Regions from separate parts of the Homo sapiens genome. Here region 2 is linked to region 1. Evidence: fine-mapped expression QTL. Tissue or cell type: aorta. Region 1 holds a variant in brackets; the other region holds the start of a gene. All regions are shown on one strand. Distances are between the middles of the regions.

Region 1 (8,000 bases):
ACAGTCATGTGCCACGTAACAGCGTCTGGGTCAGTGACGGACACTTACCTGACAGCGGATCCACAATATTCTCGTGCAGTGTGTTTGGAATCCTGGTCTGGGCTCTCGTCGTTGGCCTTGTAGATCAAGTAGGGGAAGTGAGTGATGTTCAGTCATGCTGCTGGGACACTTGGTTTTCCAGATGAAAACACATAAATAAAACTACATGCACCATCGAGGCTTGTGTAAAGACTCTGTGATCACACAGCAGCGGCTAAGCACACGTTTCTCATGTGTCACTGAGCGACACGTGACTGTCACTGGTTCGGAGACCCGAAAACTTGGGAAGCCAACCGATGTGCGTTTCCTTGAACGGCACGGTCACTTTCTATGACGCAGCATCTTGTAAAACCATATCATGCCAGGATGCAGCTTGGCATGTGCAAGGGCGTTGGGTTCTCCAGCTGGCAGTGATCATAATCTTGGGGGGAAAAGTTTTAATGTGACCTTAGAATTGGCAGAATTGCGTCTCTTCATACTGCTGTTGGATTGCTTTGTGGGGGTGGAGATGTGGAGACCCCTTCAGGCAAGCAGCCTGTAGGCTGAAGGCAGTGGCAGCACCTCACCCTGGCTCAGCGGGGCCAAGCGGAGGAGAGCGGCATCGGTGGGGTTTCCATCGTGTGCACGCTGGTGCTGCAGTGACAGGCAGGTGGAGCCCCAGGAGTGGACCAGACGCCTCTGCTTGGGAAGCATCGGCAGTCCTCAGCCAGCCGAGGGACAGATGGTAGCAAAAGCTGGAGGATGCTTAGGTTTTTGAGCCAAAAATCTTCATTTATGCGCCAGAAAGGTGGGTCCTGGGCGCCTTCTGTTGTAGACGTTTCCGTTGTGAATGTCCAGGTCAGACCCCCACGTCCATGTGTCTTCGTGTATGTCCAGGCACCACATGTGCGTGCACACCACTCCCGGGAGTCAGTGTGCTTGGCTCATGAGGACACGGCCAGCCACCGCGATGATTTTACAGACCCCACTGCCTTACGATCTGGGTGCCATGTGAGAAGCAGACTCATCAGCTTTATCGAATGACACCATTTGTTCTCTGTTCAGTGTCTCGATTTCTGTGTCTGTAGAAATGACTGGTGATTTTGGGAAGCATCTGCAAGAGCCCCACAGCCCACACACCTTTAGTTGTCAACCTGAGAGGCCCGGGGCCCTGTGCAGTGGGCAGACTAACAGCTGGGTGGCTCTTCAGAGCCTTGCAGGACATGGGCCAGGCTGCCTTGAGACCTGGACCCACTTGTCTGGTCACCGCCAGGCCTTCCCGTCTCGCCCACTGTGGGAGGGAGGGGACTCCAGACAGGACGAGGCCCACACACTCAGTGCCAGCTGGACTGCCGTGGGTGTGTCAGATGACTGCCTTGCCTTGTGTCCTCCCAAAACCTGATTCCTGCTGCTCTGGGCAGTCAAGGCAGATGCCACAGTTGGCCAGGGGCCTGCCCTGCTGGAGGCTTGAGGCGGCACGGGGGCTTCCCCAGGCCAGGACTCTGCTGGAGTTCTGGGGCTGGGGACCCCAGACAGTTGCTCTGAGAGGTGATTTGGGGCTGCCATGGCAGAGGCTGCCCTTTCTCTGCATGGCCCGGCCCAGCCCGGGAAGGAGGAAGGGAGGAAGGGAGGGATGCTGGAGCTGCCATCTTGGCTCCCGGGGACTTGGTGTCCATGCTGTAACACATCTGTCACTGCGTGGGTGTGGATGAGGCTGCCACATGCTGTGCCCTTTCCTGATGCAGCTTGTGATGCGTGAGATGCTGGAAATGTATTTAACTCGCAGCACAGGTGTCTCTGATGTTTTCTTCACCCCACCCCACCCCCCGACTCACTAATAAAAACAGCTCCGCACCTGGCCCAGCAGATCCTTTCCCACCGGCACTGCCAGAGGTTGTTGCTCGAAGTGTCACAAAGCTCACTCTAGCCCAGTGGTGGCTTCTATGTGGGGAGGCTGAGGGCCTCCTGTCCCCACCCAGATCTTGCCAGCAGGGAGCAAGAGGCACCTGCCACTGTCATGGGGAAGCTGGTGCCCTTGACCAGGGGTCCTGGGAACTGGCCTCACCCTGCTGGGCCCCTGCCTGGAGCACAAGGTGGACCAGAGGTGTCGGGCTGCCTGGATACCCCAGGTGCACAGTCAGAGGAGCCCAGGCCCCAGACGCATCCACAGCAGATCCTCCTGTTCGTGAGTCTCTGGGAGGGTAGGCCAGGCGGCCACTCAGCAGGGTCCTGTCCCATCCTCTCCCCAACCCTCCCAGAGCTGTAAGGACACTGCTCAGCTCAGCCTAGGTCCATGACCCTGGGGGTACTGGGGCTGGAGCTGCTGTCTCCACCATGGTCACTTAGGGGACAAGTGGTGTGCCCGAGAGGCGGCTGTGGGTTACTTGAGTGCCTGGCCCAATGAGCACCCGTGGGTGTCTGCCTGTAGCCTCCCCTGCTGGGGCTGGCAGGGCTGCTGGTGGAGCCCCTGGCTGAAGATGCTGGGCCCCTGCCAGGGCGGACCCAGATGCAGCCAGACAGATCCAGGGCAGACCCGACATGCGCCTGTGCCATCTGATGCCAGCCCCTGACAGGTGGGAAGGAGCATTTGTGGGGGTGCGTGGGCATCACTGGCATGCGGGACCCGTGGCAGAAGCACCAGGGCCACTTCCCCTCTGACTGTAGAACTGGGACAGCTCCCATCCCCATCCTGTGCCCTCGCCTGTCTCCTGGGCCGCACCAGTTCTTGGGGAGGCCCAGCCCCAGGACCCCCAGGTCGGAGTGCTGCCTTCTGGGGCCCATGCAGCCAAACTGCTGGGCCCAGCGGCCTCTGCCACTTCCTTACAGCAGCCCCAAGGCAGTGCTGTCCTGTGAAGCTGGGCTTCAGGGAGGGTACCAGCTGGCTACTCCTTTCCCTCCTTGGGAGTGGCAGGTCAGAGGTAGGGATCTCTTTTTGAAGATCCAGGCTGTCATGGGGCTGGGGCAGGCAGCAGCCCACCCAACAACAGGCTCCCAGGAAAGCATCATTGCTTCAGACCGCAGCCCAGGACAGGCCCTTGGGCTCCCTCCTTGGGTTTGGAGCCAGGAGCCTTGGGGCAGTGTGCAATCAGCCATGCAGCTCCACCTGCCACCGGCTGGCCCAGGCAGATCTCAAGTGAGCCTGCTCGCCCCAAAGGCGGATGATGTGGAGTCTGCCTCCCTACCAAGACTGGCGCAGCCCCTCCTGTTTACCTGACTTGATGCTTTCGGCGGGACCTGGCCTGGGGCAGGCGCAGCCTCAGCCCTCCAATAACCTCATCTGGCCCTGTGGCCTCCCTTCTCTGTGCCCGTGAGGATAGTGGCTGCCCGTGTCTCCCACCCCCAGCCCTGGGGTGAGGACCCCTTCCCTAAGGGGATGTTTCTGGCAAGGCTTTTTGGGATCTTTTGTGGTAGGTGAGGGCCAAACACAAGACCCAGGAAAGCACCTACCAAGAGAATGGAGGTTGGGACCGGGGGCTGGGACTGGAGGCCAGGATCGGGGTGGGGGGAATGGGACCGAAGTCCCTGGGACACAGCTGAGGTCCAGCCACATCCGGGTCCCCAGGCCTGCCGGCTGTCCTCGCCAGAGGGCCCAATTGGTAGGGGTGCATTCCTAGAGCCACATGGGAGGGGGGCCTGCCCCGGGGAAACAAGCCCTTCCCACAGCCTTCCTGGATGTCACGCCTGGCCAGGTAACTATGGCAAGGGCTGTCATCCACCGTTCATTCAACAGACACTTAATGCCTCTGTACACAGGCTCTTGGCCCACAAGGAGTACTTGGAGGGACCAGGCCCATCCCTGGGGAGGGAGGGTAGACCCGGGTCCTCCCTGGCAGCCGCCGGCCCCAAGAGGGACACACCCAGCCTCTGCGCGTGGTGGGCTGCCTAGGAAGAACTGTGCCCACTTACTAAGGAAGATATGGTGCATCTGAGACAAGGGCGGGGGACACATAGCCACCCTTACAAAACCAGGAGTCAGAAAGGCCCAGAGAGGACAGGGGCCTGCCCAGGGCCACACAGCTCTGCACACTGCTCCCACGGAGGAAAGCAGCCGGGAGGATCCCACCCCGGGGGGCTGCCAGGGAGGTGGGCTCGGTTTGTCCGCTGAAGGAACCCCTCATCCTGGCCTTCACAAGGGAAGGGGCTGGGCCCTGGGAGAGAGGAGGCTGTAGCTGGGGGCTCCAGGCCGCAGGGCCCAGCCTGGGTGTGTCCTGCAGCTCCTGCTGAGGCTGGGCCCAGGCCTCCCAGCCACGTGTGCCCAGCTGTTTGTAGGTCCTTTGAAGGGCTGTGTGCCAGGTGTTTGTGCGCCCCCGTGTGGGGCCGATGACAGCTGTGCACCTGGTGTCTTCGTGTGCCTGGCTGCCAGCGCGTGTGCCCTGTGCGCTGTGTGTGCCGCAGGGTCCGTGTCTGTGGGGGGGTCCATGTGTACAAGGGGTGTGTCTCCAGGCCTGTGCTCTCACGTGTGCGGCCAGCCCCCCGCGTGCATGCGGGGCAGCATTTATTTGCACTTGTGCACATAGTAGCCTGTGAGGTAGCCCAGGATGAAGATGATCCAGAAGAGGGCCACGCCGCCCAGCACCTTCATGGCGATGCCCAGCTTGCCCGTGCACAGCCTCTGGGAGATCCTGGGGTGAGAACCAACTGGAGGTGAGCCCCAGGCCAGGGCCGCATGAGGGGCCCCCTAAGTGGACTGTGGCCGTTGGTCTGGGTCAGGGGGAGGGGCCTGGGCGCTCTGCTGGAGTC[A/G]AGAGGAAGCTCTCCCCGCCCACAGCCAACCAGAGGGAAGGCCAAAGGCTGCGGTTTGCTGAGCTGCTGGACCGTGGGCTCCCAGCCAGGATGGGGTGGAGGGTGATGGGGCCGGTAGCAGGGGTTAGGGCAGGCGTCTCTGGAGGGAGACACCAGCCTGCTATGGCTGGCAGGCTGCCCTCAGGCCCCTCACCTGCGGCAGCGTGAGGCCTCTTCTGTGCTGGACACAGCCCCTAGGCTGACTCCGTCCCTGCTGCCGTCCTCCCACCTACTATAGTGGACGTGGCTCTCCTGGGGCTGCATGCTGTGGGGCTGCAGCGGGAGGGGCGGGGCCTTCTCGGTGGGGAGATCAAGACAGGTGGCCAGGCTGTGGCTTCACTGTAAAACAAGCGGATGGAGGGCGGCAGTCAAGACCCCCTCTGAGGCTGCTGTTAGGAGAGGGGCACTAAGGGTCGGGGGCTGACTCCCTCACCGGGTCTGTCGCCTGACTTAACAGGTGACCTAGACACAAAGTGGTAGAGTCATTTGCCCAGGGTCAGGCCGGGAGGATGGGACCAAGCGAGAATTCCATCTCAGGCCAAGCCCTGACCTCAGGCATGTGGGAGGCCAGTGTTTCCTTCCAGCACACTCCAGGAGCCTCCCTTCCCCGGTGCTTTTATCAGGGAGCCTGCACAGCCTGCCACCCTCAAGAGACGAGGACATTGTGGCCCAATCTAGGCTGCAGCCCCTGATAACTGTCCCCCTCCTTAACCCTGCCCGATAAGGCGCCTTCTGGCCTCTGGGGAGGCTGGCCAGGGGAGGGGGGGGTGGGGCAGGGCAGCAGGTCCGGGGCAGCGGCTGGTACAGCTAGACCGGTCCCTGTCTGGGGAGGATGCGTGGCTGGCCCCAGGCAGTGGCAGCAGCTGTGTCCTCAGCCTGTGTGGGTTGCAGCCCCTCCCCCACCCACACCTCTAGGAGGGCTGGGGCTTGGGGGGCATGATGCACTGAGCACGGGGCCGGGGTGGATTCAAGGCCTTGGGGAGGCCCTACAGAGACAGGAGGGTCGTAGGGCTGGGTGGCTGCCCAGAGCAGGAGGGGCCCGGCCCCAAGGCCAGCTCCCTGCTGGGCTCCAACTCCTGCAGACCTGGGACTCATCTTTGCATCTCGGCACTCAGCTCGGTGCCTGGCAGCCCAAGTGCCCAGAGGGGCGAGGAGACCACGGGGACTGAGCAGGAACTCCAAGCACTAGCACAGCTGCCCGGCCGGCCTGAGCCAGCCCGGACTCTAAGCACCTCCTTTACCCTCTGGCCTCTGTTTCGACCTCCTATTTACCTAAGGGGGTGTGGGGGTGGAGGAGTTGGAGGGGGCACGAGAAGTTGACAACCCACCCAGGCTGTGGGACTGGGGTCAGCTCTCTGGTCTGCTGGGCCCCCAGTGTCCCCTCTCAGCATCTGGCCCCCAGGAGTGGGGTCCTCGGGCAGGCAATGGCAGGCCCCTCACTTCTAGGAGCTGAGGCTTTGCTGGGCCCCCTCCAGCGGGGAAGGCTGACCTTCCTCCCAGGTCATCGGCACAGAGGCCTAAAGGCACAGCAGCCACTCCCCTGCAAGAAGCCAGCTCAGAAACTCAGGCCCCAGGCAGTTCTGAGACTCCCGGCACTTCCATGTCTGCCTTCCCCCAAAGCCCAGAGAGGCAGAAGGAGCTGTCTCAAAGCCATAAAGTGTGCCTTCGGTGGGAGCCCTGGCTCAGTGCAGCCTGGCACTCAGGCCCGGAGAGGCCCAGCCTCTACTGGAGTATGGGTGCTGTTTTCCCGGAGCATGTGGAGCGGTCAGCTGCCTACCCGAGGTTCACGCCCTCTTGCCTGGTGTGCAGAATCCCATTCTGGTCCCAGCAGCAATGTGCCAGCCCCAGGTAACAGCCATGACCCGGGTAAGACAAGCTTAATACCACCACCCCTGCTTTCCCAAGTCACCCAGCTGGGGTCCAGGAGCCAGGGTGCAGCAGGGGATGGGAGAGTTTGCTTCTGTGAAAGCAGCAGCAGCCACCTCCTTCTTCCAGACTCGACGTGATGGCTGGAGCTGCTGGAGCTGCAGCAGCCGCCTTGCAACCCGACATCCACGCAGCATTAGTCTCGGGAGTGCTGAGGCTCCAAGTCCACAGCAGCAGCCCACCATGGGCCTCCCGGTGGGAGGGGTCAAGCCCAGTGTGTTCAACTCTGGGATCATGGGTTCCTGTCTTGCTGACGTAGAACACGTTGTTCCCAAGTCACCCCGGTGCACAGCCACCAGAGCCGGCCCTTGAGGCTGGCCTCCCTCACTTGCTCAGTAAACGTCTCTCCACACTCATGTGATGGTCACAGGTGTGGCGGCAGGAACCCATCAGGGACTCCCCTCCAGGCCCTGGGAGGCTCCCGGATCCTGGCACCTCCTGGGGGCTTGTGAGTGCAGGAAGGCCCTAGGTACACAGGCGCCCCTCCATAGACCTCTTCACCCCACAGCGCCTCAGGGCCCCACACTTACCCGGAGAACCTTGCCTGAGGGCTGGGGCCTCTGGGCCAGGTTGCGGTCAGGGCCTGGCCAGCGGCCCGCACCTCCCAGCGGGGCAGGTCGTGGGCTGAGGTGCGGCAGACGCCTCGAGCCTAAAAAAATAAAGGTGACCGGAGAAGCCGATCTTGCTAAGGGCCGGGAAGGGAAAGTGGCTGGTGTCGGGGGTCCCCAGCAGCCACAAGGAGCCGGGCAAGGAGCCGGGCGGGCAGTTCCGGCCCTGGCCCCGCACCGCGGGTTAGGCCGGTGGGGGTCAGTCCAGGGCACGCCCCCACCCCCGCCAGTTCTCAGCCAGCGAGGCCGCGCACAGTCGCACCTGCCCACTGCGGCCGCACCGGGAAGCCGCAGCCCGGACCCCGCGCGCCTCACCTGTGTCCCCGCGTCTCTGGGCTCCGCAGGGGCCGGGCCTGGGCAGGGGGCGAGGGCGGGGGCGGGGCCACGCGGGGAAGGGCTGGAGCCAGCAGCGGGGAGGTGTCTGGTCCGGAAGGTGGCGGGGCTAGAGTGGTGGGCGGGGCCATGCGGGGAAGGTCTGGGGCCAGTAGCGGGGAGGCGCCTGGTCCAGAAGGGGCCGGGGGCGGGGCGAGAGGGGGCGGGGCGAGAGGGGGGCGGGGCCATGCGGGGAAGGGCTAGGGCCGCAGCGGGGAGGCGCCTGGTCCAGAAGGGGCTGGGGGCGGGGCGAGTGGGGCCGGGAGACGCCTCGTCCGGAAGGGGCCGGGGCTCTAG
Region 2 (8,000 bases), 80 kb before region 1:
ACAGTGAGCAAGGTTTGTGCCACTGCACTCCAGCCTGGGCAACAAAGTTTCAAAATATAAATAAAACAAAAATATTTTGGCCAGGCACAGTGGCTCATGCCTGTAATCCCAGCACTTTGGGAAGCCAAAGTAGGAGGACTTCTTGAGCCCAGGAGTTTGAGGCCAGCCTGTGCAACAGAGGGAGACCCCATCTCAATGTTTTCATAAAAGAAAAGAAAAAAAATTTTTTTTAAGTCTAACAAGGAGGAGGACTAGCGGTCTCAGCGAAGAGAGGAGGATAAAGCGCCAGAGAAAGGAAGGACAGAGAGAGAGAGAGACAGAGACAGACAGAGAGAGCCAGAGACAGAGACAGAGGAGAGAGACAGAGACTGCGAGATGCAGGGAGAGACAGAGAGAGAGCAACGTGCTCTGCTGTCTTTCAACTATGCCCTGAAATGGGAAAGAAAGATAACATCCAAAGGTGAGGCATACCCTGAGCATACCCCTGCCCAGCCCCCACCTCCTGCAGGGGCCACCCCAGGGGGCATCACAGTGATACATTTTCCAGCTGCCTCCTCTAAAAGCACAAGGCCCAGTGGAGAAAGGGGGTTTGCAACCTTGGAGCACACACCAGAGGCGTCACCCCTCAATGCTGACAGTGGAGCCCCCAACACTGTAGCCGGGGAGGTGGCCACATGGATGTTACTCTTCGACTTCTCTCTTTTTGCCCCTTAGGCCAAGGAGCCACAGCTCCATCCCTCAGAGCACCCATGTCCTTCCTGGGCTGCCAGAAGCATCTCCTGGAGCCTGACCCCATTTGCACAACACTGGCCGACCCTCCCAGGTAAAGGCACATGATGGCATCTCCTGCCCCAGTGGCCAAAAGCTCTCTTTTACGGGAGTCAAACAAGCGCAGACCTTGGCATTCGGCTGGTTCTGAAAGGCAGGACTTTGTGTCCTGAGGCTTCAATACAGATGCCCCGAAAGAACCACCTCTCAAAGCAATTGCCCCCAAACTTGAGCCCTGAGGACAGCATCTTAGCAAACACCAACCGAGAACAATGTGAGAGCATCCCACGAACCACCACCTCGTCCTTCCAGAAGGGTGCTCAGCCCAGCAGAACAGAACAGCATCTCTTCCTGGCTCCACCTTCCCCATGAAACTGTGCAGGCCCCAACCCCAAAGCCCTCCCTCTGCTCTTGGGAATTGCTAGGACACCTCAAATGAACGCAAATAAAATTAAAAGATTTTTTGAAGAAAAAGACGACCAATTGAACAGCTGGGTTCATGAACGAGAGGACTGAGGACTCTGCCACCTAAGCGACGCTGACCAGTTCTGCCTCCAGAGGGCTTCCTCCTTGAGACCCGAGAGTTCACAGTAAGGGGGACTCTTCCCCACCCTGATGGGCACCTGGAGCTAAGCCCCCAGGACCTCGGAGAGTGCCAGCTTCCCGCCCACCTCCAAAGTCCTTGCCACTCACAGCCCTGCCAGGCCTGGCCCAAGGTGAGCAGCACCAGCTCGGCGTTGTCGGGAACACTGGGGAAGTAATCTTCCGTCAGCTCCGTGCCATCCTCGTACAGGCACAGCCGGGAACCGCGCTCAGGGAGCTGCAGGGACGGGAGAAGCAACAGGAGGAGGAAGGGTCTCAAGACGAGGGCTTTGCATCTGCAGGCCTCACAAACGACCGGAATGAGCTGTGCTTAAAGAAGCAGGCTCAGGCTGCCGCCTGTATGCCACAGTCGCTCCAACGCCCAGGCAAGGATGAGGGAGCGGGAGCAAGGGCGCCTGACTGCGGGCCGTTCTAAAATACGAAGAGTCAGGAAAAACATACATCAGGGGGTGACTGCTGGCTCTGCAGGATTCACCCTTTTTAAATGAGCTCCTGAGGGCGCTTCAAATAGAGCCTGTCTTTGACAGCGCCGCCTCCCTGCTGCCAGGAGCTGAACACCACCATCCCCAGCACACAGCCGCCAGAGCGGTGCTGGCACACGAAGGAGAACGGTTGGTTGCCTCTGTGCACAAGTGTGACCGGCACGTGGCACTGTTAATTTGTTGGAGTCCGGTTCCCTGTTACTCTGCACTGGTCAGTTTTAGGCATTTTATGGCTACTCCCACCCCACCCGCACCGACCCCGGCAATGCACACCTGGTAACCCTAGTACTGGTCTAAAAAGAAAACCAACCTAGAATAAGGTGACGATTGCAATCCCCAGCTGCGAGGGCTGGAAGGGGCCTGCAGAGCCCACCTAGCCAAGCCTTTCATGTTACTCAAGGGGAAGCTGAGGCCGGACAGGCAGAGCAGCCGTGACCCCGCGTGCCAGTACCTGGCACTCTACCCGGGTCTCCTAGCTCTGATGCAGGGCTGTCCTGCCCGAGAGGTGGGAAGAGGGAAGGGGTGATCCAGGTCGTCCCCCAACCCCCCTGCGTTCTGAAGCCACGCTCAGGAACCCCAGGCTGCGGGGGCCCGGGGTCCTAGCGGCTGAGGCGAACGAAAACTACCCGCCCCGGGCGCCGCCTGCACCCTCCGTTTTGGAAGAGGAAAAGCGGCACCTCCTATTCTCCCCACACGCCTCCCCGACGGGCCGTCCCCGCCTAGCCCAGCGGGCACCTGGAAGCGGAGACAGCCCTTGCGCAGCACCTCCTGGCAGCTCCGGCCAGCCACGCCGAACTTCCTCGGGCTGCGCAGGGCCCGCAGCTTCACGCTCTTGGGCTTCTGGAGCATTGCAGATGTCCTCAAGCCCTCTGGGTCCCACAGGCGGTGGCACCTGCTGCCCAGCTGCTCAGATCCGTCCTCGCCCTGGCCGCAGGGGTCTGCACCTGGTGAGCTCTGCAAGCTGGCACAGGCCGGGTGCCGATCCCGGAAACTACATTACCCAGAAGGCCTGGGAAAAGTGAGGCCCGACGCGGTCTTGTGCGCAGGCGTCGCCCCACGGACACCACATTACCTTACTCAGAAGGCTCAGGAAAGCAAAGGCGCGACGCCACCTGGTGTGCCCAGGTGCCGTGGCCCCGGAAACTACACAACCCTGAGGGCCAGAGTAGCGGAGCCCTCCCCTTGTGCGCAGGCGCGGCCTGGGGTGGGGCGGGGTCGCGCACGCGCAGAGGCCCTGGCCCAGGGCTGGGCTTGGTTGTCATGAGAGTGGAGGCTGCGGCCGGGGCTATGGGCAGAGGTGGCCGGGTCTGCTTCTTCCCTGTCACTGCCGCAGCAGCTTGGGGTGCAAGGCGGCCTGGGGCGGCGGAAGGGGCGCCCCCCGAGTTCCGTCTGAGGAAGCGGCGGCTGCCGAGGAAGTCCACGAGAGCCGGGTCCCGCACGCCCCTGGGGTCCGGGTGCTGAGGCGCCGCCTGGCCGCCTCCCCGGGCCGCGGCACCGCTCCGACCCAGCCGCCCTCTCCACCGGGGCCGCGGCAGCGCCAGTCGGGGCCCTTCCCTCTAAGCAGGTACCTTCCGGGCCGCTGCGGCGCCGGCCCAGGGCCGGAGTGGGGAGCGGGGCGCGGGGCGCGGGGCGCGGGCGCCGCGGGGGCGCGGTCCCCACCTGGGAGCTGGGTACGAAGCCTGGGTGCGCGGTGCAAGCGCGGACGGTGTGGAGTTAGATGCCGGCCTTGCTGTCGCCGAAGAGCCGGCGCGGCCCCGTCGTGCCGTATGCCGGGGAGCTCAGCACGGGTGCTGGGACCGCCTGCCCCGGCCGGGACGGCCCATTTAGCGTGGAATATTGTTTTCAGATCCGGCTTTTCCTCTTCTGGATGCGTAGCACATAGGGGGCCAGTTTCAGATGTGTTCTGCTGAGCAAAAGTTTGAGGAAAATTGCTCTGTCCCTATAGAGATTAAAGTCTGATGGTTGGTTGTTTTTTGTTTTGGAGTTTGTTTTGTTTTGTTTGCACTTAAGTTCAGATTTCTCTGAAGCCCTTTCAGTCGCTAAGATGACTTGATCAGAAACCCATAAGCCTTTGAGACGGTCTCGCTCTGTCGCCCAGGCTGGAGTGCAATGGCACGATCTCAGCTCACTGCAGCCTCCGCCTCCCGGGTTCAAGCGATTCTCCTGCCTCAGCCTCCCGAGTAGCCCGACTAATTTTTTTATTTTTAGTAGAGACGGGGTTTCACCATGTTGGCCAGGCTGGTCTCGAACTCCTGACCTCAAGTAATACGCCCTCCTCGGCCTCCCGAAGTGCTGGGATTACAGGCATGAGCCACCGCGCGCAGTCACACTTAAAAGTCTTCTTAAAAAGAAAATCAGAGACAAGTTTTGTTTCCTAGTCTTGTAACAAAATGGAAGTTGCTACACTGAGTTTCCGTTTAATTTATAGTTAATTGCCTTTTACCATGCCAGCACTAGGAAAAGTGTAGTGAGGGATGAGACCGCCATGGAGTCATCGCTGCCTGGGGAGAGATGTACTCTGGCATTTGTCGGGATGTCGATGGCTGCCCCTGGGACAACAGGGATCCCTCATGCCTCTGGTGAGGAAGACCAGCCAATAACTGGATGTTCAACAGAGCTTTGCTTCTTCCCAAATTGTTAATGGTGATTTTTATAGAGCCTAAAAGTGGCATCCTTCAGTGACATTCCAAGTATCTTATGTAACACTTGAAGGTTTACACAGAGGGGACCCTAGGGTACAACTGGAAGGTCTTTGGGAGGGGGTAGACTAAAAAAGGAATCCTTTTCAAATACCAGACTGAGGTAATAGCATTGCCTCCACAGTCCCTGTGCATTTCTCTTAGCTGGTTCTTAAATGCCAGTACTTTGTTTTAGATTTGTTGGGGGCAGTATAGCATACTGGAAACACCCTTCTGTTTGACTGAAAAGGTCCTATATTTATGTCTTCGAGCCGTAACAGAGAGTGTTGGTTAGGTTCAGAGACTAGCCAGGCTCGGCGGCTCACGCCTGTAATCCCAACACTTTGGGACACTAAGGTGGGAGGAGTTCAAGACCAGCCTAGACAACACAGTGAAACCCCATCCCTACAAAAAAAAAAAAAAAAAGTAGCTGTGCATGGTGGCATGTGCCTGTAGTCCTAGCTGCTCAGGAGGCTGAGACAAGAGGATCATTTGAGCCCGAGAGTTCATGGTTACAGTGAGCTATGATCACGCCACTGCAGCAGTACAGCCTGGGCAACAGAGCGAGAACCTGTATTAAAAAAAAAAAAAAAAAAAAAATCGGGGCTGGGCTTATTGGCCACGCCTGTAATCCCAACACTTTGGGAGGCTGAGGCGGGTGGATCACCTAAGGTCAGGAGTTCGAGACCAGCCTGGCCAACATGGTGAAACCCCATCTCTACTAAAAATACAAAAATTAGCTGGGTGTGGTGGTGCGCACCTGTAATACTAGCTACTTGGGAGGCTGAGGCGGGAGAATCACTTGAACCCAGGAGGCAGAGGTCGCAGTGAGCCGCGATCACGCCACTGCACTCCAGCCTGGGTGACAGAGTGAGACCCTCTCTCAAAAAAAAAAAAAAAAAAATTTGGAGACTGGAACCCAACAGCCTGGGCACAAGAGGTATTTTCAAGGTGGAATAGGGAGTGACAAGCCCTGCCCTGAAAGATGATGAAAGGGGCCTGGCATGGTGGCTTATGCCTGTAATCCCAGCACTTTGGGAGGCCAAGGCGGGCAGATTGGCCAGGAGTTCGAGACCAGCCTGGCCAACATGGCAAAACCCCGTCTCTACTAAAATACCAAAAAAAAAAAAAAAAAAAAATTAGCCAGGCATGGTGGTGCATGCCTGTAATCCCAGCTACTTGAGAGGCTGAACCACAAGAATCACATGAACCAGGGAGACAGAGGTTACAATGAGCCCAGATCACGCCACTGCACTCCAGCCTGGGTGATAGATTGAGACTCTTGTCTCAAAAAAGGAAAAAAAGCTGATGAAAGGATTGGAGGGCTTCAGAGCTGAAGGGTATTAACTTTGAGCTTTGATTGTTTGGCTGGACTTCAGAATTCAGGACAAGAAGTGAGGGTCAGGGGAGAGTTGGCGCATTGATCCCTAGATGGGGAGCCCACCAAGAGCTCTGGAGTTAGGACATGGATGGAGATGACTGGAGCTGGGCCTGAGGCACGTTCACACAATAGGAACTTAGGACTTGTCTGAGGGAGGCGCTTCAGGTGGGGACACCAGGTGGTTGCTGTCTAGAAAAGACAGTGGGATCAGAAGGAAGGGCAGGCCTGATAAGACCTGGCACACTGTTGGATGGGGAGTGGGTGAAGAGAGATGCTGTGGCCAAGGGAAAAGTACCTCTAGGCTCAGAGCCCATGCGACCCAGAAGTGCCAGGTCACGAAGGAGTGGGAGCCATGGGCTGTGCGTTTCTGGCATAGGTTGCCCAGAGTGCAGGTGGGGCCGTGCAGCTAACAGTGGGTTAAATCACACTCATCCTTTCAAAATTCTTTTTTTGTTTGGTTTTTTAGAAACGGGGTCTCACTCTCTTACCCAGGCTGGTCTCGAACTCCTGGGCTCAAGTGATCCTTCCACCTCGGTCTCCCAAAGTGCTGAGATTATAGGCAGGAACCACCACACCCAGCCTCATCCTGTTCTGGGGGGCTTTTTAAAAATTATTTTCTGAGTTGGTTTAGTTTTGTTTTTGTTTAATATACAGTAACATCTTGCAGTGAACTTTGTGCAAAAAATAACTAGAATCTCGATGGTTTATCATTCTATTTTAGTGCTTTTGTTCATACATTCCAAGAAACATTAGCAATAATGCCAGCCAATAATTAATATATTGAAGTGGTCCTCTTCGAATTCTCAATGAAAGTAAAAGAAAGATCTAGATCATGCATCAAGCATGTCAAAATACGTACAGTTTTATGTGGGGGTATGTTTATATGTTACCTCCTATTGGGAATTTCAATTAATAGTATATCTTATCCCAGAGAACTTTCTGATGGAGTCTTCTTTATCCTGGTTTAGTGAGGAGCCTTTTTTTTTTTCCCCCGATGATTTAGACCTAACCCAAATTGGCTTACTTAGGAGGAATCTGACTGGCTTAGTAACTGAAAAGTAACCCAGAGTCCCTGAGCAAATTGGGCTCAATGTCCTGTGAGTCAGTCCCTCAACCTAACTCTGCATGAACCTTTTTGTACTTAATATGCCTGCCTGTCATTCCTGCTCTTCCTTCTGGTCATACACATTCATTTAGCAGTTGTTAATGCTAGCGCTTACGTTGCCTTTTTCCCCTTGGTATTGTATAACTAATTAACATACTGGTTGTATTAGTTTCCTAACTAATAGAAAGAAGTTTGTGTTTATATTCTAGACATAGCAAAATATCATAAACTAGATGGCTTAAAACACCAGAAATTCATTCTGCAGGCAGAAGTCAGATGGCTGCATGGACAGGGCTGCACTCTCGCTCTGGAGGCTGTAGGGCAGGATCCCTCCTGGCTTCTTCCTAACCTTGGGCGCCTGCTGGCCATCCTCAGCCGTCCTTGGCCGGCCCGCTTAGAGATGCGTTGCTCCGGTCTCTGCCTCTGTCACCACATGGCGCTCTCCCTTTGTGTGGCTGTGTCTCTTCCCTTCTTAGAAGTCACGTTGCATTGGGCCCACCCCGAGGACCTCATTTTAACTAGATCACACCCACAGAGACCCTATTTTCAAATGAGGTCTCCTTCACGGGTACCACACGTGGAACTTCAGCGTATCCTTTTGGGGAGCACAATCCACAGCACTGGTCAAACTTTTTGGACACATATTTGGGAAAAGTCAAGATAACTTAAATGATATCTTAAGCAGAACCAGAAGCATCTATAAAAGTGTTTAACAAAAAAAAATAGACTCTTTTCAAAGAGATGGGAAAATTCTGAATACTTAGTGCATTATTGTGTGTGTTAGCAAGGCATGAACCAACCCTTTAAATGTCCATGTGTTAGTGAATTCCTTTGTTTTAAAGAAGTTTTTCCTGCTCTTATAAACAGCCCAAACGTGCAGAATGCCCCACAAGATTGGATTTGTAGTCGTCAGCTCATCTGGACACGAAGACGGCTTCAGTGCCCGGGAGCTCATGATCCACGCGCCAACTGTCAGTGGGTGG

What was found. PIP is the estimated chance that this variant, and not a neighbour inherited with it, causes the effect.
Region 2: it holds the start of CEP104, and the variant in region 1 is fine-mapped to the expression of CEP104 in aorta (GTEx, PIP above 0.99).

What each region holds. Positions count from the first base shown.
Region 1 is chr1:3,772,435-3,780,434 of GRCh38, reverse strand. SMIM1 (small integral membrane protein 1 (Vel blood group)) reads right to left here and starts at 7,686. Exons shown (of 4, transcript NM_001288583.2): 1 at 7,647-7,686; 2 at 7,254-7,372; 3 at 4,952-5,136; 4 at 4,479-4,640. The coding sequence starts at 5,061. The coding sequence ends at 4,514. It overlaps LRRC47 (leucine rich repeat containing 47), which reads left to right. Exons shown (of 7, transcript NM_020710.3): 7 at 1-1,876. RefSeq lists enhancers at 4,784-4,843, 4,759-5,274, 5,423-5,567, 6,307-6,822, 6,823-7,338, cis regulatory regions at 5,471, 5,463-5,479 and a silencer at 7,400-8,000. The variant A/G (reference allele first, on the strand shown) is at 4,759.
Region 2 is chr1:3,852,306-3,860,305 of GRCh38, reverse strand. It overlaps CEP104 (centrosomal protein 104), which reads left to right and starts at 3,095. Exons shown (of 22, transcript NM_014704.4): 1 at 3,095-3,417; 2 at 7,885-8,000. The coding sequence starts at 7,899. DFFB (DNA fragmentation factor subunit beta) reads right to left here and starts at 2,830. Exons shown (of 7, transcript NM_004402.4): 1 at 2,589-2,830; 2 at 1,462-1,588. The coding sequence starts at 2,702. RefSeq lists silencers at 1,949-1,998, 2,929-3,428 and an enhancer at 2,609-2,788.